Linked DNA regions of Homo sapiens. The protein of the gene in region 4 purifies or fractionates together with the protein of the main gene of each other region. This does not show direct contact. Each region holds a gene or a part of one and is shown on either strand. Other genes may lie near its edges. The genes, in order: IPO9, TRIP11, NRBF2, OVOL2, SIPA1L1, TRA2A and TMOD3.

Region 1 (3,500 bases), on a different chromosome or scaffold from region 4:
TTTGTTTCAGTTTTTGTTGTTGTTGTTGTTTTGTTTTGTTTGCTTTTTGGGACAGGGTCTTGCTGTTTTGCTCAGGCTGGAGTGCAGTGGTGTAGACAAAGCTCACGGCAGCCTTGACCTCCCAGGCTCAAGCCATCCTCCTGCCTCAGCCTCCCGAGTAGCTGAGACCACAGGCATATGCCACCATGCCCAGTTGACTTTTTTATTTTTTGTAGAGGTGGGGTCTCACTATGTTGCCCAGGCTGGTCTCAAACTCCTGGGCTCAAGCAGTCCTCCCACCTTGGCCTCCCAAAGTGTCAGGATTACAGTTGTGAGCCATTGCATCCAGCAAAAGGCTAGAGTTTTTTCAGGATAATAGGTTGAAATCTTCCTGTATCTGTTGATGAAAAGCTATGAATCAGATTGGCAGCATCACAAAGACATAACTTGATCTTTTCAGATTAAAGTATGGACAGCCAACCCCCAACAATTTGTAGAAGATGAAGATGATGATACATTCTCCTATACTGTTAGAATAGCAGCTCAAGACTTGTTGCTGGTAAGTTTACCTTGATACTTCAGCCACATAATTTCTATCAGTCACTTGAGCATTTCTTCTTTTTTGTAGACAACTAATCCAAGGTGAGCAGTGTTGTTGGGTGGCTTTATCTCAGACTTTATTGGGGATGCAAGAGAGTTTCTGAAATGAAATTCGAGACTCAGAAATTCTAAAATCATTGCTACTGGTTCTAACTTAAAACTAAATATTAGATAAAAGAATTGTGCAGACCATAGGGCCGGGGTGCGGGGGAGAATTGTATAGAGGATAAAGTGTTCCATGGAGTAAGGGTAGTTGAATCAAGAACATTTCAGTTTATGGCTGGGCGTGGTGACTCACACCTGTAATCCCAGCACTTGGGGAGGCCGAGGCGGGCAGATCACCTGAGGTCCAGAGTTCAAGACTAGCCTGACCAACATGGAGAAACCCCATCTCTACTAAACATACAAAATTAGCCGGGCGTGATGGCGCATGCCTGTAATCCCAGCTACTCGGGAGGCTGACGCAGGAGAATTGCTTGAACCCGGGAGGCGGAGGTTGTGGTGAGCCAAGATTACACCATTGCGCTCCAGCCTGGGCGACAAGAGTGAAACTTGGTCTCAAAAAAAAAAAAAAAAGCCATTTCAGTTTAATTCACTCTTCAACAAGAATCTATAGCACAGACAAAAGGTTGGCAAACCTAGCAAAACAAAACAGATTGCTGAAAGATTAACATCCAAATACCTGCTCATGTTTTCTTTGCCTCTTCTGACTAGAGCATAGAGTTGTCTCTAGGCTGAAATACTAAGAAGAAACTGCCACTTGCTTCTTGTTGGGTAGGAGATTTGTTCTCTGTTGATGAATCACTTCTCATTATCATTTAGTATTTCTAAGGAGCTGTGAAAGATTATATTCAGTTCCAATTAGTAGATTAGACTTATTTTTCTATCATCAGTCTCCAAGAGAGCAAATATTTGGTCCATTGTCATCCAAAGCTAGATCTATTATTGCTCACTTATGCTCTGCTGAATATAGCCAAAGGAGCCAACTGGTTAGCCTTACAATGCCTAGGCACTACCGAAATACAGATACTACTTTAATTTCATTAGAGACCCTGACCTACTGGTATAACATTTTTAATACAATTAGGGGTTTGCACATGTATGTGAAAGAGCTTGAACCAATCACTTCTAACAGTCATGACTGAAGCGGTTTACAATTAAAATGCATTTAATGGGCACAAACAGATTTATTAGCTCTTCTCTCTCTATAGGCTGTGGCCACAGATTTCCAGAATGAAAGTGCAGCAGCCCTGGCTGCTGCAGCCACTCGACATTTACAAGAAGCTGAGCAAACCAAAAACAGTGGCACTGAGCACTGGTAAGAGTGAGCCGCTAATTGGTTAAGATGCTTTTGTTTACCCCTTCTTAAAAAGTCTTGAAAGGATGGATTTATTTTTATCTTAATTTGAAAATCTGGTTTTAATTTAATAACAGATTTTAATCTCTTATTATTAAAATTTCACTCTTTTCAGCTATAGGTTAGAATGGAAGGGCTTAAGGTAAATGACTCTTTTGGAAGAGATTGTGCTGGAGTGCCCTTTTCTGAATCTTGTTTCCTCAAATATTTATCTCTTTTGGCAGTTTAGTATGTTTTACTAGGCTGTAGTATCCTTTCACAGGTGGAAGATCCATGAGGCATGCATGCTTGCCCTAGGCTCAGTGAAGGCCATCATCACTGACAGTGTGAAAAATGGCAGGATTCATTTTGACATGCATGGGTTCCTGACCAATGTCATCCTTGCAGACCTCAACCTCTCAGGTATGTTTCAGCACGTGCCAGGATTCTAGAAACTCTTTAAACCTGTTGTGGGGTTGGGGGAGGGATCAGCATTAGGAGATATACCTGATGTAAGTGACAAGTTAATGGGTGCAGCACACCAACATGGCACATGTATACATATGTAACCTGCACATTGTGTACATGTACCCTAGAACTCAAAGTATAATATATATATATATATATATATATATAAAGGAAACTCTTTAAACCTGTCATTAACTTGGTTATATTGTTCACTTAGACTGGTAGGCCAGATATTCTTGTGTCCTTTGAGTGAAAATTGTTTGCACCCTACAGCTTGAACTCATCCGAACCTCTAAAACAGCCCAGAGGCCGATTCAAGCTTCACCTAATGACAATCTAATATTGCCTAGTTCATAATTCTTCCGTGATGTTTATGTTTCTTCCCAAATTGGCGTTCCCATTCATGGTTGTTTTTGGCATTTGAATGGAATCCAAATCTGGTTGCTGTACCTTGAGAATTATCGAGTACTGCTCCCATTGTTAAGTCCAGAATGCCCTCAGGCATTCTGTATCAGGCACATTCTTCCTGTTTGTTTCCTGTCATTTTTCTCAAACTTTATTTTTGGCCAATATCCAAATAATTAAAATGTTCCATTCTCATACCCATGTTAGCCATCTGTCTTAAAAAGAAAAAAGTAGGCCAGGCGCGATGGCTCATGCCTCTAATCCCAGCACTTTGGGAGGCTAAGGCAGGTGACTCACCTGAGGTCAGGAGTTCAAGACCAGCCTGGCCAACTTGGCGAAACCCCATCTCTACTAAAAATATAAAAATTAGCTGGGTGTGGTAGCAGGAGCCTGTAGTCCCAGCTACTCAAGAGGCTGAGGCAGGAGAATCACTTGAACCAGGAGGCAGAGGTTGCAGAGAACTGAGATCACACCACTGTATTCCACCTTGGGTGACAGAGCGAGACTTGGTTTAAAAAAAAAAAAAAGGTAGCCCTTTACTATTAGACCGATTTCTTCCGCAATACAGAGCAGTAGCTGAGAATCATTGTTGTCTATGTGGCATTTTCTGCTACTTGCTTCTGCCATGCCATGCCTTTTCTCATCCTTGGAGCCAGATCACCATCCGAAAACACTGCCTTTGCTTTCTCTCTCAGTACTTAAATCATGGAAC
Region 2 (3,500 bases), on a different chromosome or scaffold from region 4:
AATAAATTTTTGAATTAGAAGGAAATAAGAATTGTGATACAGATACTCTAGTATAGCTTTTATCGGATCTCTGTTTTTTCAACCAACTCTCCATAGCAATGTTGAGTTTCTTTTATAAGGTTTATATTAGGCTGTTTCTTTGAAGGAATTTGAGATTCTTATTTTTTTAATTTTATTTTTTAGAGAGAGAGAGTCTTGCTGTATTGCCCAGGTTAGAGTGCTGTGGCTGATCATGGCATGATCATAGTGCACTACAGCCTTGAACTCCTTGGCTCAAGTAATCCTTCTGCCTCAGCCACCTAAGTAGCCTCCTGGGACTATAGATAAATGCCATCATGCCTGGTTCAATACTCTATTTAAAGTAGATTCCATATGGGTTTGATTTTTAAAAATCTGTCAATGAAAGAAGGCTTTAATATATAGTTTATTACAAACATCATAACTAGAGACTGAAATAATGTTGAAGCATAGAGAACTGTCCCACTTCTGAGATTTTGGAGAAAGCATTAAATACCAGGTAGTAGACTATAAAATGTATATATACTATCTTTAGGAATGTCAGGTGTGACAGAGGGGAACCTAGTCTGGTTAAAAGGTAAAGGAAGGAAGGAGGATTCTTTCTAGGGTCAAGAAAAAGTTCCATGTTCTAACAGAAGCAAAAGTAATAAGGGAAATTCCTTTAGTAAGAGAAAAGAAACCTTTTATTTTCTAATTAGAGAGGCTAAACATTTGGGTGAAGGAGTGTTGATTTTTTATATTTTTATTTAGTCTGAGGCTGTTGATGACTGGATGTTAGAGAATGGAAGTGAGGAAGGCAGAAAGACTTGCGGACATTTTGGAAAGTATGTATGTATGGTAGGTGGGGCCAGGGGATGGATAAAGGGTAGCCACGGTGGAGCAGGATAGGAGAGGCTCTCAAATGGGAACGTTTTTTATAAAGAAGAACTTGGTGCTAGAGGACAAACTTACAGTCGCTGCATCTGTCTAGGGTTATAGAAATGTTTTGCTTGAAGCTACAAGTAAAATTGCACATGAATGAAGGATGTGGTTTGTTGAATTTCACATACAATTATTGAGGTATTGTTCAATATTATTTCCAATATAGAGCACTTAAATAGAATCCCAAGTTTTGCTTCTATGTATGTTTTTAATCTTTTGGTGTCTCCAATTGAAAGTATGTGTTGCTTTTTTCCTTTTATCATTTCAGGAAGAACTTCAGATGTCACTTTTAAAATTGAACAATGAATATGAAGTAATTAAAAGTACAGCTACAAGAGACATAAGTTTGGATTCAGAATTACATGACTTAAGACTTAATTTGGAGGCAAAGGAACAAGAACTCAATCAGAGTATTAGTGAAAAGGAAACACTGATAGCTGAGATAGAAGAATTGGACAGACAGAATCAAGAAGCTACAAAGGTAACACTGTATTAAATACAGTAAGGCAGCACATTCTACTAAGTAAACTAAACACAGAAATGGTGGGTGTGATTTAATTAATATTTTAGTTCATAGAGATTGACAAACCTTTTTGGTAAAGTGCTAGATAGTAAATATCATTGGCCTTGTAGGCCATATTGTCTCAGTCTACTCAACTCTGTTGTTGTGATACCAACAAATGAGTGTGACCATGTTTCAACAAAATTTTATTTACAAAACAGGCAGCATCCCTGAGTTGGCCAATGGCTATAGTTCGTTGACTCTTACTCTAGTGTAGAGTTAAAAATAAACAACATGCCGGGCGCAGTGGCTCATGCCTGTCATCCTAGCACTTTGGGAGGCAGAGACGGGTGGATCACGAGGTCAGGAGTTCAAGACCAGCCTGGTCAAGATGGTGAAACCCCGTCTCTACTAAAAATACAAAAAATTAGCCGGCCGTGGTGGCAGGTGCCTGTAATCCCAGCTACTCGGGAGGCTGAGGCAGAGAATTGCTTGAACCCAGGAGGCAGAGGTTACAGTGAGCCGAGATCATGCCACTGCACTCCAGCCTGGGCAACAGAGCGACTCTGTCTCAAAAAAAAAAAAAATACTATTTACCATCTTTGGTTTTAAATTCTTATCCCTAAAATGCTTTAAGAAATGACAAGATGGGGCCAGGCACAGTGGCTCATGCCTGTAATCCCAACACTTTGGGAGGCTGAGGCAGGCAGATCACCCGAGGTTGGAAGTTTGAGACCAGCCTGACCAACATGGAGAAACCCCATCTCTACTAAAAATACAAAATTAGCCGGGTGTGGTGGCGCATGCCTGTAATCCCAGCTACTCGGGAGGTTGAGGCAGGAGAATTGCTTGAACCTGGGAGGTTCAAGAGGTGGAGGCGGAGGTTGCGGTGAGCCGAGATTGCGCCGAGCCGAGATTGTGCCATTGCACTCCAGCCTGGGCAACAAGAGCGAAACTCCGTCTCAAAAAACAAAAAAGACAAGATGGGTTTGCTGTAAAATAATAATAAGTAATTTTGTAGTGGGTGTTTTTGATAGAAAAACAATGTTTTTAAGAAGGATTAGAAATATTTGAGGATTATTTTCTATTATGTATGAGATTTTATAAAATTTTCTTTGAGTACTAAAATGAGAACATGTTGTAAAGTCACCATGCAAATTTTTCTTTCAGCACATGATTTTGATAAAAGATCAGCTATCAAAACAACAAAATGAAGGAGATAGCATCATCAGTAAACTGAAACAAGATCTAAATGATGAAAAAAAGAGAGTTCATCAACTTGAAGATGATAAAATGGACATTACTAAAGAGTTAGATGTACAGAAAGAAAAGCTAATTCAAAGTGAAGTGGCCCTAAATGATTTACATTTAACCAAGCAGAAACTTGAGGACAAAGTAGAAAATTTAGTAGATCAGCTAAATAAATCACAAGAAAGTAATGTAAGCATCCAGAAGGAGAATTTAGAACTTAAGGAGCATATTAGACAAAATGAGGAGGAGCTTTCTAGAATAAGGAATGAGTTAATGCAGTCTCTAAATCAAGACTCTAATAGTAATTTTAAGGATACCTTACTTAAAGAAAGAGAAGCTGAAGTTAGAAACTTAAAGCAAAATCTTTCAGAATTAGAACAGCTCAATGAAAATTTAAAGAAAGTTGCTTTTGATGTCAAAATGGAAAATGAAAAGTTAGTTTTAGCATGTGAAGATGTGAGGCATCAGTTAGAAGAATGTCTTGCTGGTAACAATCAGCTTTCTCTGGAAAAAAACACTATTGTGGAGACTCTAAAAATGGAAAAAGGAGAGATAGAGGCAGAATTGTGTTGGGCTAAAAAGAGGCTGTTGGAAGAAGCAAACAAGTATGAGAAAACCATTGAAGAACTGTCAAATGCACGTAATTTGAATACCTCTGCCTTACAGCTGGAACATGAGCATTTAATTAAACTCAATCAAAAGAAAGACATGGAAATAGCAGAACTCAAAAAGAATATTGAACAAATGGATACTGACCATAAAGAAACTAAGGACGTTTTGTCATCTAGTTTAGAAGAGCAGAAGCAGT
Region 3 (3,500 bases), on a different chromosome or scaffold from region 4:
CATCAGCATGTTACTACAGGCATGCATGTAGAGATGAGATATTCAGAAGGGAAGCTAAAAAAAAGACCACAGGAAAAATCTCCCACATTTTAGGTAACAAAAGTCTTATAGTAAGTTTTGCATTATCAGCATGTTAGAAAACAGAAGCTCAGTGAAAATGAATTGGTTGGAATTGAATTGAATTACTATTTTTAGAACCTGAAATGGCCAACTATTTGAAACCCAAACTCCTTTTTATAATAACTAAGATAAAATGGCAGACTTGTTACAATCAGCTCCTGTTTTTAGGGATCTTTGGGCTCAGAGAGCTGTATCCAGGAACTGTTTACCACATTTATGCCATCTTCATGATTTAGAAAGAAGATTGGATTAGCAGGAGCTGGGAAATCCAACACACTTACTTGAAAAATAATCAAAGCTGATATTCTGGTGGGTCAGCAGTATCAGTCTTGCATATGAAAAGCAACACACATTATTACTATTGTGACTTTCTGCTCTTCAGTTTTACACTGAGTACTTAATAAGAATACTCACCTGCAGCCTTTTTGTGACAAGAAATAGCCTCTTCGTATTTGCCTGCAGCTAATAAACGGTCTGCTCGTCTGCTCTGTTGATGAGCCTAGAAGACAAACATCCCTAAGTTCCTCTGGATCATAAAATAAAACATGATTTCTTTCAAAAAGCAACTACCTTTTAAGAAGATAAATAATACTGTTTTGTTGCCACATATCAAATCACTATTACAGCTCTATCTGTAGCTGGGGAAATGTAATGGGTAGAGCCTAGAACTGCAGCATCTGAAAGGAACTGGCAACTTCTTTCACTTCTACCATAAGCCCTCTCAAGGTTAACACCAGGCACTTAACTCCTTCAGTGACTCACATTCTTCCACTCTTTGGAGATAAACCAAGAGTTACAATCATAGATTGTTATTCAAAATGTCTATTTTCTTGATTTTTAACAAGCTCCTTTCAAAACAAGAGCTATTTTGTAGATACTTTCACTAATCTGTATAGTCTAAAAACTATAATCAGGAAATCACTCATCATGTAGTAAAATCCAAGCTTCTCTTCTATCATCTCATTCTTTCAACATTAAAGTTACTATTTGTTTTTAAAATAAAAAATTTGGACATTGCAGTTGATGAATTCATGATACCAACATCTAATATTACAAAGATTGTTTTAAAGATATCTCATCAAAAGAACAAAGTCAAAAAAATCAGAAGTTCTAACAGCAAATAATGTAATTGAAGGAAAACTTATTAAATAAGCAGTCACTGGCCTCCTTACACTTTAATAATTTCAAAAGAGCTTTAAGTCCAGGCACAGTGGCTCATGGCTGTAATCCCAGCACTTTGGGAGGCTGAGGCAGGCGGATCATCTGAGGTCAGGAGTTCAAGACCAGCCTGGCCAACATGGTGAAACCCCATCTCTACTAGAAATACAAAAATTAGCTGGGCGCAGTGGCTCACGCCTGTAATCCCAACACTTTGGGAGGCCGAGGCGGGCAGATCATGAGGTCAGGAGATCGAGACCATCCTGGCTAACAGGGTGAAACACCGTCTCTGCGGGCGCCTGTAATCCCAGCTACTCAGGAGGCTGAGGCAGGAGAACTGCTTGAACCTGGGAGGCAGAGGTTGCAATGAGGCAAGATCATGCCATTGCTCTCCAGCCTGGGTGAAAACAGTGAAACTCCATCTCAAAAAAAAAAAAAAAAAAAAAAAGCTTTAATATACATTATTTCAGCTGCTTTAACTACGACTTTGTTAATGTGTTTTCCTCTCTTACATAAGGAGGCCCAAAAGACTGATGGGGAGGTCGTGTAACTTACATAAGATTATACATTTAACTAGCAAGGAGAAAGGCAGAGATAATCAGCTAAAGTTTTCTACCTCATGTAACGATTTTCCTCAGTAACAAACACACACGATTTAGCAAAGCTTCACAGCTTCACAAAAAAGCAAAAAGCATTGTACACCCATATTCATAACAGCATTATTCACAACAGCCAAAAGGTGAAAGCAATCCAGATGTCCATCAACAGATAGATGGATAAATGCAGTATACACACACAATGGAAAGGTACTGTCTTTAAAAGTAAGGTAATTCTGGCCGGGCGCGGTGGCTCACGCCTGTAATCCTAGCACTTTTGGAGGCCGAGGCAGGCAAATCACAAGGTCAGGAGATCGAGACCATCTTGGCTAACACGGTGAAACCCCGTCTCTACTAAAAATACAAAAAAAATTAGCCAGGCGTGGTGGGGGGCACCTGTTGTCCCAGCTACTCAGGAGGCTGAGGCAGGAGAATAGCGTGAACCCGGAAGGCAGAGCTTGCAGTGAGCCGAGATCGCGCCACTCCACTCCAGCCTGGGTGACAGAGCGAGACTGTGTCTCAAAAAAAAAAAAAAAGGGAAGATAATTCTGACACATACTACAACATGGATGAACTGTGAGGACATTAGACTGAATAAAATAAGCCAGTCATAAAAGGACAAATACTATACAAATCGACTTATTGGGTATCTAAAGTAGTCAAATTCTTAAAAACAGGAAAGTTGAATGGTGGAACAACTCATCATTGAACAGGGGAGGGGGAAATGGGGAGTAGGTATTCAAACGGCATAGTTTCAGTTTTGCAAGATGAAAAAATTCTGGACATTTGTTGCACAACCATGCGAATATACTTAACACTACTAAACTGTACACTTAAAAATAATTAAGAAGGTAAACTTCACGTGTTTTTTACATCACTTAAAAAAGGTAAAAAGTGGCTGGGTGCTGTGGCTCATGCCTATAATCCCAGCACTTTAGGAGGCCAAAGCAGGCAGATCACTCGAGCTCAAGAGTTTGAGACAAGCCTGGGCAATATGGTGAAAACCCATCTCTACAAAAAATACAAAAATTAGCCGGGTGTGGCGCTCGCACCTGTAGTAGTAGTCCCAGCTACTGAGGAGGCTGAGGTAGGACAATCACTTGAGCCTGGGTAATGGAGGCTGCAGTGACCTGTGATCGCACCACTGCACTCCAGTCCGGGCAACAGAGTGAGATCTTGTCTCAAAAAAAAAAAAAAAAAAAAATCGGGCATGGTGGCTCATGCCTGTGATCCCAACACTTGCGGAGGCCAAGGCGGGTGGATCATCTGAGGTCAGGAGTTTGAGACCAGTCTGGCTAACATGGTGAAACCCCGTCTCTACAAAAATTAGCCCAGCAGGATGGTGGGTGCCTGTAATCCCAGCTACTCGGGAGGCTGAAGCAAGAGAATCGCCGCTTCAACCCGGGAGGCAGAGGTTGCAGTGAGCCGAGATCGCACCATTACACTTCAGCCTGGGCAACACAGTGAGACTCGGTCCCAAAAAAAAAACAAATCTGTTCTGTCAGTTAGCTGAAAAATGATTTGTCTTGGATGCTTTTTAAAGACATGTCCCTTTGATGCTGCATAAAAGTACTTCACAGAATCACGTTTGCAACTGAGATTATAAATATTCTGGGCATGTTTACA
Region 4 (4,027 bases):
ATCTAGGAAATAAGATTGGTTTACGTCTTCCTTTAATCCAGGATTCCAACGGCCCTGTGTGCCTGAGGCAGAAGAGTTTGCCTAAAATATTTGTTAAGAGACTGGATGAGAATCTGTCACTTTCTCTCCAGGGGAATCTGGGCAATTGGGGGACAGAGGGGCAAACTAGCTGCAGAGGCTCCCAAAACAACGTTGCAATTGTCCTTCCAGCCTGGTGATAAATATGCAAGTGGGGCACTTTGTAGAATCTCCCGAAGGGCAGAGCTACCAGCCTCAGGCAAATTTTTCCCTCCCACTTAACCCCACCTGGCCCGGAAGAGCCTCAGGCCAGCTGACTTTGAACCTCACCCTCACACTTACCGCTAAGCTGCCGGCCCGCACGGTTTCGGCAGCTTCTTCTTTAAAGAGGTCTTTCCTTTGGATCCCAGCTGAAGCCTCAAACCTCAGTTCAAAACCAAATGCGCCTCAGCCCACCCCGGAGTCAAACCCTGGGAATACGCAATGTGCATAGGGGACCTCTCCCAGGAAAATGAGGGGTCCTTTCTCAATCCACAGCAAAGCCCAGGCTCTCCCTCCCCACCGCCCTCTACTCCCGGTCTGGGTGGCAGGAGGGCACCGGAGAGCCCTGGAATTACCACCTGCACCGGGGGTCTAGGGGGTGCACAGTGTAGCACTGCGGCCCACCAGGCTAGAAAGAGGGGCCAAGTGATCATAAACCACCACCTCCTAGCTCCAGCTGGCTGAGTCAGTGGAATGGGATTCCTAAACCTTGGTGGGTAGCGGATACCTTTGAGCAGACCATCATGGAAGTTCTGCCCGAAAGCGCAGGTGGGCGTCCAGAATGTTCGAGGGGGCCCCGAGGCGCGACCATAGATGGGAGGAAACACTCCAATCCACTGGGGTAGGGGCGCTCGAGAAATCTGTAGTTGAACCCTTTTACCCATCAATTTAATTCAAGATTGGAAAGATGACAGATCTAAAGTGCCGTGCACAAGCCTCCTGTCTGACAGACACTGGGAACCGGTTCATGTTGGGAGAGGCCCACTATGTGTCAAGCTGCCGCCCAGGTCCAGAACATAAGCATGGGGGGTGAACTCTCAGAATCGCGGCGCCAGGAACTGCGTCCCAGAGGGTGGAATTTCTGAGAGCGCTGAGGCTTCCTTTCCAACCTCAGGAACTCCGACGGCCTTGGTTATTCTACAGGCCTAGCGCACAGAACGGGCTGCTGGCGGAAGGCAGTGATGCCTGTGCCTTTTCGGCAGTTCCAGAGGCAGCACTCGGCATCAGGCGGGGCCACCGGGAGGACGGAGCCCACTCCGGGAACCGGCCGCCCCTGCGCAGCAGCTACCCTGCGGGCGGGAGGACGCGCCGAGGCGCCCTGGCCGCCGCCCAGGGGCAGGTGCAGGAGCGGCGCGGCGGGCGCGCTCGGGGCGCGGGTGCCGGGTTGCGCAGGCGGGCGCGGCAGGGAGGGGCGCCGGCCTCGGGAGCCCGACGCCAGGGCGTGGTGCAGGTGGCGGCGGGGGCAGAGTCGACACAGTACCTTGATTTTCGATCTGGCGACCGGGCGCTGCTTGGTCGCCAGGTGTCCATCGGGGCCCTCGGCGTCGCCGGGCTCGGGGGTTTCGCTCTCGGGGGCGTGCGGGGACGAGCTGCTCTCTGCTCCTCCAGGCTCCCCCGCGCTGCTGCTGCCGCTGCCGCTGCTGCTGCCGCCGTCGCTGCGGCAGTCCTCGGGGGGGTCGTGGAGCAGGCGGCCTAGGCCCACTGTGGAGGGAGGGGCCGCGCCCCGACACACACACTCGGCGTCAACCCGCACGCCCGCGGCAGTTTGACCTGCGGGCGGTGCTGCCGCCGCCCCGCCCCGGACCTGGGCACCTCGCCAAGTGGGCAACGTCGCGGGGGAGGCCAGTAAGCCCCGAATCGGCCCACAGAGCTAGCTTGGGGTGCTCGGAGCCTCTTTCCGGTCCCAGCCAAGGCGCCCACGAGGAACCGGGCGGCCACGAGCGGCGGAGGACCCCGCGCGCCAAGTTTCCTCTCAGGGCGGGGGAGGCGGATCTGACCTCTCCCCAGCTAGCCCCAGAAGGGTTGGCGAGCCTTTGTGCACCCCCATGAGGACGTGAGATTGGGGGTAGCCTCTGCTGGCTTTCAATCCCTTTCCTGGGCCACCTTGGCCCGCGCTGCAGCCAACGGTCCCGCCGCCGGGCAATTAGAGGCTCCCACTACGGGGAAGGGGGCGCCTAGAGTCTGGGGCATCCCAGTCCCTCATTGCCTGCCCTAACCCGCCTAGAAGACCCCCGCGTGCCCCCCGGAAGAGGGGGATGAGGTGGGGAGCCCGCCCCTGCCGATGAGCAGAGAAGACCCGCCACCCCTTCCCCCACCCCGGGAGCCCAGCGCCCAGGCCCGGCCCCCGCGCGCGCTCACCTGGGATGTAGGTGTCTGCCCTTTTCTCATCCGGGAGCTCATCCCAGCTGCGGACCGAGACCCCCAGGCTCCTCCTCTTCACCAGGAAGACTTTGGGCATGGTGGGGTCCCCTCTCCCGACTGCGGCCCCCTCCTCCCGGCTGCTCCCCGCTAGGGGCAACGGCGGCGGCTCCGTCCCCGGCTCCCGGCGGCCAGAGCCCACCTTCCCGCCTCGCCTGCCCTCTTCCTCCACCCCCCGCCGCGGCGCGGCCCAGGCCTCTCCCCCGCACGCCTGGCGACTCCCAGCCTCCCGGCTCGGCGACACCTATGCCTTAAATCGCGAGTGAGACCACGCCGGGGAAAAAGTTTCATAAGGTGGAATAGAAAAGGCACCAGGAAACTTGGGACTGAGCATGCGCCCTGCAACATAACGGTGTCAACAAGCTCGCTACCTGTCCGACCGGTTCCGGCGGCCGGGGCTGCCTGTTCCAGCCCTTCCTTAGGCATGAATGTTTGCAAAAGAATTTAAAGTCTGTTCTTCCCCCTCCTCTTTTTAAGAAAGGAAGAACATTTTTTAATCAACCCCCGCCCCATTCCCCCATCACCTGCACCTCGAGGCGAGCTCTTCGAGGTAAACCCCAGGTTCGCCTCCCAGGGCACCCCTCCGGTGAGTTGGGGCCTCCCACGAGTTGCCCCCCTCCCCCGCCCGGTGGATTTGTCTTCGACGAGCCAGAAAATGGCTCAGTTCCCCTGGACCTTGTGGAGCCTTCCTGGGGCTTGATGAAATCTGGGCGGTCAGAAGGGGGAGGCGGCGGGAGACTTCCAAGGATTCTGATTATTAATAATGGGGGGTGGGGGCTTAGGGGCTTAAGCTTTCCATCAGCTACAACACCCCCCCCCCATAAGCAGTAAAAATAAATTTAAAAATTCGGCATCTTTAGACCACGTTATTTTTCTGACTAGTATCATACAATCTAAGAAAAACAAGCCTTGCCCCGCCAAAGCAGCTTCTCCTCACAAGACGTTGCACCCCCCGAGAGCCCCCTCACCCCAAGTAAACACACAATAGAAACAAAAGCCAGGAGCATATTATGCAAATGCAGCTTCAAAACAAGCCCCCAATCCTCGCCCACTCCCACCGTTGCCTCTCCTAACCACCCGATCCCCAAATTCTGAGACTGGGAAATACCTTTCCAGGAAGCTAGCATAGTGAACATTGGCTACATCTTCTAGCCGCCCCTACCGGGGAGGTAGGAAAGCTTTGCATTTATTATTATATCTGTTTGTTCCTATCAACCTTTATGCCTGGAGGGGAGAGGGAGAGAAGGAGGGGGAGTTGGTAAAATATGCCAAGTTTGTAAAGCAGTTGTGCTCACGTTGCGGGGCGCGCTGCCCTTCCCAAGGCCTTGTTCGGGTGCGCCCAGGACAACCGGCACAGCCTCTTGTGTCGCTGCGGTCGCCCTCCTCCAGGAGGTCGTCAGACGTGTGCCAGCTGCCGGGTGCTGCGGGGGCGCGTCTGGTCAGGGATGCCCTGGAGCCCAAGGCTCACCCAACAGCCAGCCTCACCTGTCTGTAACCTGACCCTCCGCGCTCCCAGCCTACAGGGCCCGGGAATCAACACAGCGGTTTT
Region 5 (3,500 bases), on a different chromosome or scaffold from region 4:
GTAAATTGGAACATTGACACACTATTTGATGAAATAAAAGAGTTGTTATTCATTTTAAAACTAAAATAGTAATAAGTAGTCATAACAAGGACCCTGATTGTTCAAAACAAATATTAAACTGTGGTCAGTAGGTATGTTTAGGAAGGTAGAAATATGTGTTACTCCTCTCAGAGAGGTTTCCATACCCGGTAATTAAAATGTAATAACTGTTGAAAGGAATCTGTATGATATAGTACAAAAAGCACTTGGAATTAGACCAAATTGTTAAACAGTGCAGTGGGAAGTTGCTTGACATCCACTTAAAATCCTATTAAGTAAAATGTCTAGCATAGGCAGGGAGGAAGCGTGATGCATGTCCATTAAATGTCTGTGTTCATCCTCTTTCCTCTCTGTAAAAAAAAAAAAAAAAAAAAAAGAATTTGCAAGCTTCAGCTGAGAAGAAGAAAAATCCAAGTAGGTCAAGTGATAGAAATTTCTTTCAGAAGGTCTATTTCAAGCCTCAATTAATCAGCATCCCTATTGTCCACTGCAGCTGACCTTTCTAAGACAAGAATCTGATTATGTCATTTATTGTGCTTAAAAGCATTTAGAGGAAAGTTCAGACTTGCAAGCATAGCTTACTGCATGGGGGCTTCAGGTTTGGCCTCCTGTCTCTCAGTCTCATCTACCAGTCTGCACCCCATGCCTACCTCACTCCTTTGGAGCTACTCACCACTCCCCAGAACAGCATGCTCTGCCCCTCCGCTCTGCACATGCTGCTCCTCTCACACATTCCCCTTTCCCTCCATCTGATGAATTCCTGCTTTTCTTTTTTCTGAGAAGGCTCCCTGGACCTCCCAGGACTAAAGTGCCTTTCCTAAGTGCTACCAGTAGCACCCTGTACTTCGCAAGTAGGAGACTCAAATCACTGGCTGTGGCTCCCACCAGACTTTGAGTTTCTGGAGGGCTGAGCCCGGGACATCTTCAGCCTTGATCCTCAGCAAAGGCAAAGTGCCTAGCACATAGTAGGTACTCAGTGACTGGTGGATCAATACTATTAGAAATCGAGAGAATGATTGGCACGTGTTTGATCTTTCCTGTCCTTTGCCCAGATCTGCTTTCTTGGAAGCTGCCCTGGCCAGTAATCTGATTCAGGCTCCAAGAAGAGGAAACTTCCTTCTCCCATTTGATGTTTTCTGTATCACCTTCCTTTTAAATTTTGGGCTGGGGATTGTTGATTATTGCTGTTTTTCCATTGTGCTTCCAAAGTTCAAATGTCTTATATTTCTCAATTTTTATCCACTAAACTGTTCAGAAGTCTTTGAAACAGGCCGGGCGTGTTGGCTCATGCCTGTAATCCCAGCAATTTGGAAGGCTGAGGCAGGCGGATCATGAAGTCAGGAGATCGAGACCATCCTGGCTAACACAGTGAAACCCTGTCTCTACTAAAAATACAAAAAATTAGCCAGGCGAGATGGCGGGCCCCTGTAGTTCCAGCTTCTGGGGAGGCTGAGGCAGGAGAATTGCTTGAACCCAGGAGGCAGAGGTTGCAGTGAGCCGAGATCGCGCCACTGCACTCCAGCCTGGGCAACAGAGTGAGACTCCGTCTCAAAAAAAAAAAAAGTCTTTGGAACATTTTCATGTGTCAGCTTGAAGTTGGCTTTGGGTATCAACACTTGTTATTTCATTCAAGCTCTTTGATGCCAACCAATGTTACATGGCCCATATCGAGTAGAAATAGCCTCATCATCTCTTAGGCCATGTGACCCATGTGAATGGTCCCTTTTAGCAGGCACCTCAGGAGTAGGAGGTTTGAAAGCACTTCCTCAGAGGGAGTAAGTGTGGGCTTGTCGTGGAGCACTCTCTTGGCTGTCCAGAAGCTTACATTCCAATCCTGGCTCTCTCTAACAAATCTGGGTAAATCCTTTTACTTCTCTGTATCTGTTCCTGGAGAAGTGAAGAATTTGTACCAGCTGCTCAACCGGAGGTTCATGAAGATGTCAAACCACAGAATACAAACAAGACACCTTCCTGGTCGCTCAGTGTACCCAAAGATTTTGGAGTGAGAAGATATTTTTATATGAAAATGAACACAAATATTTTTCAGTAGAATGTAAAATCGAGGTGAATTTTCAAATGAAACCCAAAGATTTTACTGAAAGAATTTGAGGAACATTGAGTTCTGTTAAGTTCCCTTCCTGTGATAACTTTCCATCACTGTTTTAGCCTCTAGCTCTGTCTGTCTGTCATCTAGATAACCCTGCTGAGTAGAACATTCCAGTCCTCAACAATGCTGGGTAAATAAAGCATGGCTATGATTTTAAAGCATGTATTATTTCCAAGAAGACACAGAATTGCCAACTAGGCTAATATACATACAGCCAAGCAGAGGCCCTTTGGAATCTGCTTTTAAAAATACCAAGAACCGTTTATAATTAATATATCTTAAGTAACTACATGCAGCAAACTGAGATTCTAGAAAGGCTTTTTTTCTAAATATTCTGTTTAGCTTAAACCAGGCCTTATTATCAAGAGTTCAGAATTTGTGGCATCTAAATTAATGAGCTTTTAACCTTGTAGAAACCTTGCCAGTTTGATTTATCCAAAACAAAATCATTTATTTGAAAAGAGCATTCCAGGGTATCATCTTCCTCATCTTCTGTAAGGATTCTATTTCTGACTATGCGAAGCTGATTTCAGTGCCTGTATCATTTACCTCCCTACCACAGTGAATCATTGAAAATTATATGGTAAGGATTCAGTTCTTTTCCTCACAGTTCATTATAGCTGTTTCTAATTATTGGTAGGTTTTCAGTGTATGTTTGTCTAAAGTTCTATCAATTAATAAATGGATCTGCAGAAAGCCAGTTAGTTTAAGGGGCAAGTAGATGGAGGGTGCTTAAAATCACACCCCCTGCTAAACATTTTGCTCTCCTTATTTAAAATAAAATCACAGATATTTTCTGAGAAGGAATAACAATTTGAGTGAAATAGCAGATGAGAAGTTGCCAATTTTAAAGTGAAAGATATTAAATATTTCTGGATTCTTACAGGATTCCACTTAGAAAAATCTAGCAAACCTGGATTTCAGCATCTTTTGCTTGACTTTAAGAGAAAAATAACACGATCAAATTAAAATTATACAGCTGTCAGCGTTCAAGTCAGGCAGTTCACAATAGACAAGAAAAATTGCCTTCCTAATACATATTGGTATAATTAAGCCATATGGAAGTCTCTGAATTCTCTCCTCCAGTTAGAAAATGGAGTGTTGGTTGCCACTGTTCTTTGTCATGAAGTGAACTAGGTAGTCTTTTAAAAATACACTTGTAAAACCAACAGATAGGCCATCCCATGGCATCTTCTGAGCATGTAGCTTTTCCATTCCACCAGAAATATAATTTGCCTCCTGAGGTTGCTGATTTTTATTTTTCTTATTTTCACAAGAAATAACTATTTCTTGAAAAACAAAGCTGAATATCTTAAAGCAAACCCTTCCTAAAGAAAAAAAAGTGAAACAGAGC
Region 6 (3,500 bases), on a different chromosome or scaffold from region 4:
GTTGAGTTATTAATCTGCCCATTTAAACCGGGCAGTGTATTTTTAATGGTTATTGGATGCAGGAGCCAGATTACTGAGGAAATGGTAGGATTCCTTGACTGGACAGCTTTAAGAACAAGTAGTCTAGTGAAACAGGGCAGATACCACCCATTCCCAGCAATCTTTTTTGTTTGCAATTTCAATTCATTTTCCAAATTGTGGATAGTTTTATGAATTTCTTTGAGAAAAAGTTGAAATTATTTCATAATGAAGACGAGTCAGAGAGAAAAGGATTAGCCTAGCATTTGTCCTCTTTATATAAAGGACTTCTTATAGCCTGATTCCTAATGCAGAGTTCAGTGAAAGTGACATTTATTTGGTAACAGCTTTTGAGAAATGTTACTTTATTTCTAAATAATTATATACTTGGCAGTTTATTCTTCCAGTTAAGTTTACTAATAGTTACTGATTTGTTAATATAAGTTTGTAAGTTGTTTTTGAAAGTTAAAATGAAGCTGGGTGTGGTGGCTCACACCTGTAATCCCAGCGCTTTGGGAGGCCAAGGCGGGCAGATCAAGGAGTCAGGAGATGGAGACCAGCCTGGCCAACATAGGGAAACCCTATCTCTACTAAAAACACAAAAATTAGCTGGGTGTGATGGCGTGCACCTGTAAGCTGAGCTACTCAGGAGGCTAAGGCAGGAGAATCGCTTGAATCCGGGAGGCGGAGGTTGCAGTGAGCTGAGATCAGGTGCCACTGTACTCCAGCCTGAGCTACAGAGCAAGACTCCATCTCAAAAAAAAAAAAAATAGTTAAAATCATAGTGACAACTTTGTAGCTAGGAGTTAGAGACAGCTAAGAGGACTGTTTTTAGCTTAGATGTTTCCATGAAGAAATTTGTGCAGACTGAGATTTCCTCTGAGATAAAAAGAAAGAAGGGCAGACAACAAAGGAGGTTAGGTATTTGTGACACCTTTGATAATAAAAAGCAAAGCTTCTTTTAAAATAAATCTGATGTTGGCCGGGCGCGGTGGCTCACACCTGTAATCCCAGCACTTTGGGAGGCTGAGGCGGGCAGATCACTAGAGGTCAGGAGTTTGAGACCAGCCTGGCCAACATGGGAAAACCCCATCTCTATTAAAAATACAAAAATTAGCCAGGCAAGGTGGTGCATGCCTGTAATCCCAGCTGCTCAGGAGGCTGAGGCAGGAGAATCACTTGAACCCAGGAGGTGGAGGTTGCAGTGAGCCTAGATCGCACCATTACACTCCAGCCTGGGTGACAGAATGAGACTCCTCCTTCTTAAAATAAATAAGCTAACATCTCTTAAAAAGACATTCTATCATACCATAATGCTTTGTTGCTACTCCAAAACTGGGATTTAAAATTGGAATTTTAAGATGTTACTGAATTATCTTGTTTACTTTAATAAAAGGTTTTTATTTCCATCCTAGTAAAATTAAAGAATTGTAGTGTTTTACAGAGCAAAGCCTCCTGTGTATGTTTGAGAAGGACTGTAGCAGCGTTCGTAGATAATAATCCAGCTATTGCTATTCAACAGTAGCATAAATGAATGTTATGTCACAGGGTCTGTTTTGTGGAAAGGAAAGCCAAAAGAGAAGAGGGGAAGATACTCTTATGAGTTTGATTAATGAACCAGTCTGTGAAACTTAAATTACAAGCAAATTAGCCATGCCTTTTTTTATAAGATACTGAATATGCTGCTTTCATAGTTTCAGTGAATGAAAAAGCCCAGATTGCTATGCCTGCTCCAGACATCTGTTGAGTGGTTTAGAGTATCTGAGATGCAGTGAAAGACTTGTAGGTAGCTAAATGGGAAAGGTTGGTATTGAGCTGAAAGGTAGCTGTGTATTTCAGTTTTGTTTTTATCTGAAAGAAAATGACCAGGTGGCATTTGTACAGTTCTTGATAAATAAGTCTTGACATTAAACTTGAAGCAAAGGAAAAGTTTTCAGAAAGCTGTTTGAGTTGTGTGATAGTCTTAAGGCATAAATAAATTGGTGTGAAATTACTTCTGTGAAATTGAGATAATTATTTACACTGATAATCAAGGCTTAACTGGACACAGAAACCAAGCTGTCCATCCTGTTTTGATCATAAGTGCCTCATATCTGTGCAGTTAAAAAAAACAAGCTTATGATCAGTAAGTTATTTTATTTGGAATGCTTTGATTTACACCCAATTTTTTCAGAAACCCATCACTTTTTGGATATAGAATATAGTCACTGAAGGGAGTACCAGTATACATAAATGCATAAATTATGTAAAAACTGAACATAATTCTAAAGAGATGGAATCAAAGATAAAGACTATGATATAAATTTTGTACCTTCTTGCACATTGTGGTATGTCGTGGATAATAGAGCATTTTAAAGTGATCTGGTTGCAAAAATGTGTATATCAGGAATTAATAAGCTAATGGGGAAATTTTAAGAATTTCATGCTTATTAGTTTTTTCGGTATGTTTGTCTTCAGAACATATTTTAAGTCAGAATGAGCAAAGATAGTAGTCAAAGTTGGGAGAAGGTGTAATTTTACTGATTTTTTTCTTTTTGACTTATTTGAACCTTGACATGTGCTATGGGTGAGTTTAGATAGGTGTGTACAAATATTTCAGCCTGGGATGCCTTGCTCTAACTATATCTTGATTTCTTAGCATGACTTAGTGAAAGCTTATTTTTAAGAATCTTCAGATTATAAAGTAGTGAAAATTTAACACTTAGGTGGGGGGAAATTATAGTTGTTAGATTTATATTTGAATTATATTAAAATTGCTCACATTTTAGGAACTAGAATGAAACATGGGAGGAGGGTGAAGAGTATGGTTTAAAAAGCATTTAGAGAAATTTAGTAAATTCTCTTTGTTAGAAACTAGAGTTTTGAACAATTTTAAAGACTATAAAATTGTTTTTTTTTTTTTTTTTTAAATAAACTAGTTACTTGCACTTTACCTGCTGGCTTTTCCATTTGGTAGATAACATTCTGAACTCCAGCAGAGTTTTATAATCCCCACGTGCTTAAATATACTAAATGTTCTTTTTCCATTAAGGTTAATGTTCGTGAAGAAATTGAAGAGTTTTTTCCAAGAATGTGGAAGATAAATCAAGATAAAAGAAGGCTAATGAAAAGTATTAAAGATCAGAAAATTAAAATTGAATGGGGGAAAAAATTGAACAGAAGATTGGTCAGATAGAAGCACTTGAATATTTTTTTAAGGCTATTTTGAATTGTTTGAATTGGGGAAGAATACACGAAGTATGAAAAATGAAAAACTCAATGAAGAATGAAGAGAAGTAGAAAGCAAGAGTGAAGTAGAATTAAAAGAATCTGGAAGAATGAATGGGTCCTAGGTTAAGTAAATGTATGGTTTATGTTCCAGTGTCTGTATGATCAAGTTGTAGATGAATTTGCATGATTACTTAGTTAATAGAGAATTGGTGATCTGGTTCAAGTAGGGAATTATTGAGGACAGTTAGCAGTATTAACAGTGGGTTATTATT
Region 7 (3,500 bases), on a different chromosome or scaffold from region 4:
GAGTTTTGCTGCTAAAATCTAGAGGAAGGCAGGAAGGAAAAAAGCCAGATAGTAGTCCATTTTGAACCCGGTCAGTCTTTCCATGTCAATTGCTCTTACTCTTTCGTGCTCATTCATTAGTTTGTGAGCCTTTTGTGGTCTTTGACTTGAATGACCACAAAAAAGTAATGTTTTCCCCAGAAAATGTATCCATAAAAGTTTACCTATTATAGGTGTTCGTAGACCTCCACACACATGCATCAGAGCACAGTGATCTCTTTAAAGGGCTCAAGGATTTCAGGTCCTCTGTCGTTCACATCTGAAGCATCATATTCCTGTGTGGGTAGCTGAGGTAAAGATTAGGGAGTGAGAGTGAGGGAGGGCAGTAAATTTTGGAGCCTCTGTCTCAGTAGCTCTTCTGTGTACCTTTACCTCCTCTCCCTCTCTGCTCCTTATTCCTACCCTCTTTCCTATTCCTTCTTTCTCGCAGGAAGTTCTCCCCACTTTCCCACTGCAGAGTACTCCTCGTGGGAGGAAGAGGTAATGTGCCCTCCCATCACCTTATTCTTCTCATTTAGGCTATATTTCTTTAAGTCTGTGATTCTTACTGCCTTTATGCCAATTATCAGTCAAATTTCAGAGAAATGATGAGATGCTAGATTTTATCATACTATTATTTTATCTTAAATTTTGCCAAAAACAAATGGCATCATCAACTTGTGCTATCAAATATATTTGAGTGGTAAAAATATCTTGTAATATACTAAGACAATGAAAATATTCATTTTTGAAGACTGATACATGGCAAACAAATTAAATGTTGAATATGTTTGGTATTTATATTCAGTAAAATTTTATTTGGGTGCTTTAAATATGTGTCAAGGCCAAGCGCAGTGGCTCCTGCCTGTAATCCCAGCACTTTGGGAGGCCAAGGCAGGCAGAGCACTTGAGGCCAGGAGTTCAAGACCAACCTGGCCAACATGACGAAACCCATCTCTACTAAAAATACAAAAATTAGCCAGGCATGGTGACACACGCCTGTATTCCCAGCTACTTGGGAGGCTGAGGCAGGAGAGTTGCTTGAACGTGGGAGGAGGAGGTCGCAGTGAGCCAAGATCTTGCTACTGCACTCCAGCCTGGGTGGTAGAGTAAGACTCCATCTCAAAAAAAAAAAAAAAAAAAAAAAAAAAAATTAAATAAATAAATATGTGTCAACACATAAAGGATCTTTTCGGAATTGTGGGGATGGAACTTTTAAATCTGTCCCCTTGAATAAATATGCGTGTATGAGAGAGAGAGAAAGAGATGTTACCAAGTCAATTATCTGCATGCACTGTAATAGTATCAACTCCAGGCTGAGCACAGTGGCTCCTGCCTGTAATCCCAGCACTTTGGGAGGCTGAGGCGGGTTGATACGAGGTCAGGAGATAGAGACCATCCTGGCTAACATGGTGAAACCCCGTCTCTACTAAAAATACAAAAAATTAGCTGGGCGTGGTGGCAGGCACCTGTAGTCCCAGCTACTCAGGAGGCTGAGGCAGGAGAATGGCTTGAACCCGGGAGGCGGAGCTTGCAGTGAGCCGAGATCGTGCCACTGCACTCCGGCCTGGGCGAAAGTGCGAGACTCCGTCTCAAAAAAAAAAAAATGGTATCAAATCCTGCTCTTTTCATTTATCACTGCAGATGTGGTCAAAGGTGAAAAGATTCTTCCGGTATTTGATGAGCCACCAAATCCAACCAATGTAGAAGAGAGTTTGAAGAGAACTAAAGAAAACGATGCTCATCTTGTTGAAGTTAATTTGAATAATATAAAGGTAAGTGTGCTAATCAGAGTGGTTTTGTATTGCTTTGAGTTAGTTGAACCTAGGATGAGAGCTGGGCAGTTGATAAAATAGTCTAATTCTTTCTACTTTAACGTAAAGTTTTTGCTCTTACCAGTATGCTAACATAGGTTTCTTCATATTTTAGATATTGAAGTATTATGGTATAGTATTTTCTAACTTGCTTTTTGAAGAATTTATCATCTAAAAATGTAAACCCTACAAACTGTCAGAATAAATCTCAGGTTTTCTAAATACTGCCCACTTCTAAGAACATTTAGCCTCTTGGGTCTTGCTTTTTTAAAATTCGGTTCCTTAGCCAGGTATGGTGGTGCATGCCTGTAATCCCAGCTACTTGGGAGACTGAGGCTGGAGGATGGCTTGAGCCCAAAAGTTTGAGACCAGCCTGGGCAACATAGTGAGACCTGCCACTGTCCCATCTCAAAAAATAAAATAAAACCTGTTTTTTTGAGGTAAAATTTAAATATGGTAAAATTCTCCCTTTTAGTGTCCAGTTCTATGAATTTTGACAGGTGCATACAATTTTGTACAACCACCATTACACTCAAGATATAGAATATATCTGTCACCGCAAAAGTTCTCTCATACCCCTTTGTAGTCATTCTCTGACCCCCAGCTCTAGCCCCTGACAACCACTGACCTATTTTCTTTCCCTATTATTTTGCCTTCTCCAGAATGTCATATAAATTGAATCCTATAGTATGTAGCCTTTTGGGTCTGGCTTCTTAGCATAATACATTTGAGATTGATTCATGGTGAGTGTGTCAGATACGCTGCAGTTTGTTTATCTGTTCATCAGTTGGAAGACATATGGGTTCCTTCCAGTTTGGGATGTTTATTAATACAGCCACTATATACTTTTCACACACAGGTTTTTGTGTGAACATGTTTTAAATTCTCTTGAGTAAACACCTAGGAATAGGCTTTCTGGGATCTTATTTTGAGTTTTAAACAATGCAACTCTTCCTTGGAGTAAGGAAAGAAGAAATTAGGAGGACATGGGGTAATTAATTACCAAAAAGTAAACTCAAATTATCTAGATATTAGCCATTGTGTAATGGCTTCATTATAAATTCCTCATTTTAAAACTTGATTTTTTTGAAGTCGAGGACAAGTGGAGGAGAGCATCTGGAAATCTTGAGCCTAGGGAAGGAAGCTTCTGTGCTCCTCTAGGGAGTGATCCTTCCTGTGAGTAGAGGAAGGAAAGCCTCAGAGAAAGCTTATATTCATAGTTGATTACTAACTTTTTTTTTTTTTTTTTTGAGACAGAGTCTTGCTCTGTTGCCCAGGCTGGAGTGCAGTGGTGCGATCTTGGCTCACTGCAACCTCTGCCCTGCCCCAGGTTCAAGCAATTCTTGTGTCTCAGCCTCCTGAATACCTGGGATTACAGGCATCCACCACCACACCTGGCTAATTTTTGTATTTTTAGTAGAGATGGGGTTTCACCATGTTGGCCAGGCTGGTTTTGAACTCCTGACCTCAAGTGATTCGCCCACCTTGGCCTCCCAAACTGCTGGGATTACAGGTGTGAGCCACTGCGCCCGGCCTATTTTTATTTTTTTTAATTTGGTCCCTGTGTATCCCTTTCTCTAAATAAACAGTAATCATCTGAAAATAACCAGGCTAGGGGGAATTGAAGTCTCAAGATACTACTGAGAGAAACCAGCATCTTCAGTATTT

The links.
Region 1: the proteins of OVOL2 (region 4) and IPO9 purify together in Homo sapiens (affinity purification with mass spectrometry, with the first as the bait; one large-scale study listed by BioGRID). This does not show direct contact.
Region 2: the proteins of OVOL2 (region 4) and TRIP11 purify together in Homo sapiens (affinity purification with mass spectrometry, with the first as the bait; one large-scale study listed by BioGRID). This does not show direct contact.
Region 3: the proteins of OVOL2 (region 4) and NRBF2 purify together in Homo sapiens (affinity purification with mass spectrometry, with the first as the bait; one large-scale study listed by BioGRID). This does not show direct contact.
Region 5: the proteins of OVOL2 (region 4) and SIPA1L1 purify together in Homo sapiens (affinity purification with mass spectrometry, with the first as the bait; one large-scale study listed by BioGRID). This does not show direct contact.
Region 6: the proteins of OVOL2 (region 4) and TRA2A purify together in Homo sapiens (affinity purification with mass spectrometry, with the first as the bait; one large-scale study listed by BioGRID). This does not show direct contact.
Region 7: the proteins of OVOL2 (region 4) and TMOD3 purify together in Homo sapiens (affinity purification with mass spectrometry, with the first as the bait; one large-scale study listed by BioGRID). This does not show direct contact.

The regions. Positions count from the first base shown.
Region 1 is NC_000001.11:201,856,657-201,860,156, forward strand, and holds part of IPO9 (importin-9), read left to right. Parts: intron 1-439; coding exon 440-538; intron 539-1,790; coding exon 1,791-1,897; intron 1,898-2,198; coding exon 2,199-2,338; intron 2,339-3,500. UniProt on the Homo sapiens protein: Nuclear transport receptor that mediates nuclear import of proteins, such as histones, proteasome and actin. Serves as receptor for nuclear localization signals (NLS) in cargo substrates.
Region 2 is NC_000014.9:92,005,560-92,009,059, reverse strand, and holds part of TRIP11 (thyroid receptor-interacting protein 11), read left to right. Parts: intron 1-1,207; coding exon 1,208-1,420; intron 1,421-2,611; coding exon 2,612-3,500.
Region 3 is NC_000010.11:63,143,328-63,146,827, reverse strand, and holds part of NRBF2 (nuclear receptor-binding factor 2), read right to left. Parts: intron 620-3,500; coding exon 535-619; intron 1-534. UniProt on the Homo sapiens protein: May modulate transcriptional activation by target nuclear receptors. Can act as transcriptional activator (in vitro). Involved in starvation-induced autophagy probably by its association with PI3K complex I (PI3KC3-C1).
Region 4 is NC_000020.11:18,055,117-18,059,143, forward strand, and holds the start of OVOL2 (transcription factor Ovo-like 2), read right to left. Parts: upstream 2,801-4,027; 5' UTR 2,519-2,800; coding exon 2,419-2,518; intron 1,762-2,418; coding exon 1,541-1,761; intron 1-1,540. UniProt on the Homo sapiens protein: Zinc-finger transcription repressor factor. Plays a critical role in maintaining the identity of epithelial lineages by suppressing epithelial-to mesenchymal transition (EMT) mainly through the repression of ZEB1, an EMT inducer.
Region 5 is NC_000014.9:71,666,476-71,669,975, forward strand, and holds part of SIPA1L1 (signal-induced proliferation-associated 1-like protein 1), read left to right. Parts: intron 1-3,500.
Region 6 is NC_000007.14:23,521,982-23,525,481, reverse strand, and holds part of TRA2A (transformer-2 protein homolog alpha), read left to right. Parts: intron 1-2,926; exon of another isoform or gene 2,927-3,500. UniProt on the Homo sapiens protein: Sequence-specific RNA-binding protein which participates in the control of pre-mRNA splicing.
Region 7 is NC_000015.10:51,892,153-51,895,652, forward strand, and holds part of TMOD3 (tropomodulin-3), read left to right. Parts: intron 1-1,662; coding exon 1,663-1,793; intron 1,794-3,500. UniProt on the Homo sapiens protein: Blocks the elongation and depolymerization of the actin filaments at the pointed end. The Tmod/TM complex contributes to the formation of the short actin protofilament, which in turn defines the geometry of the membrane skeleton.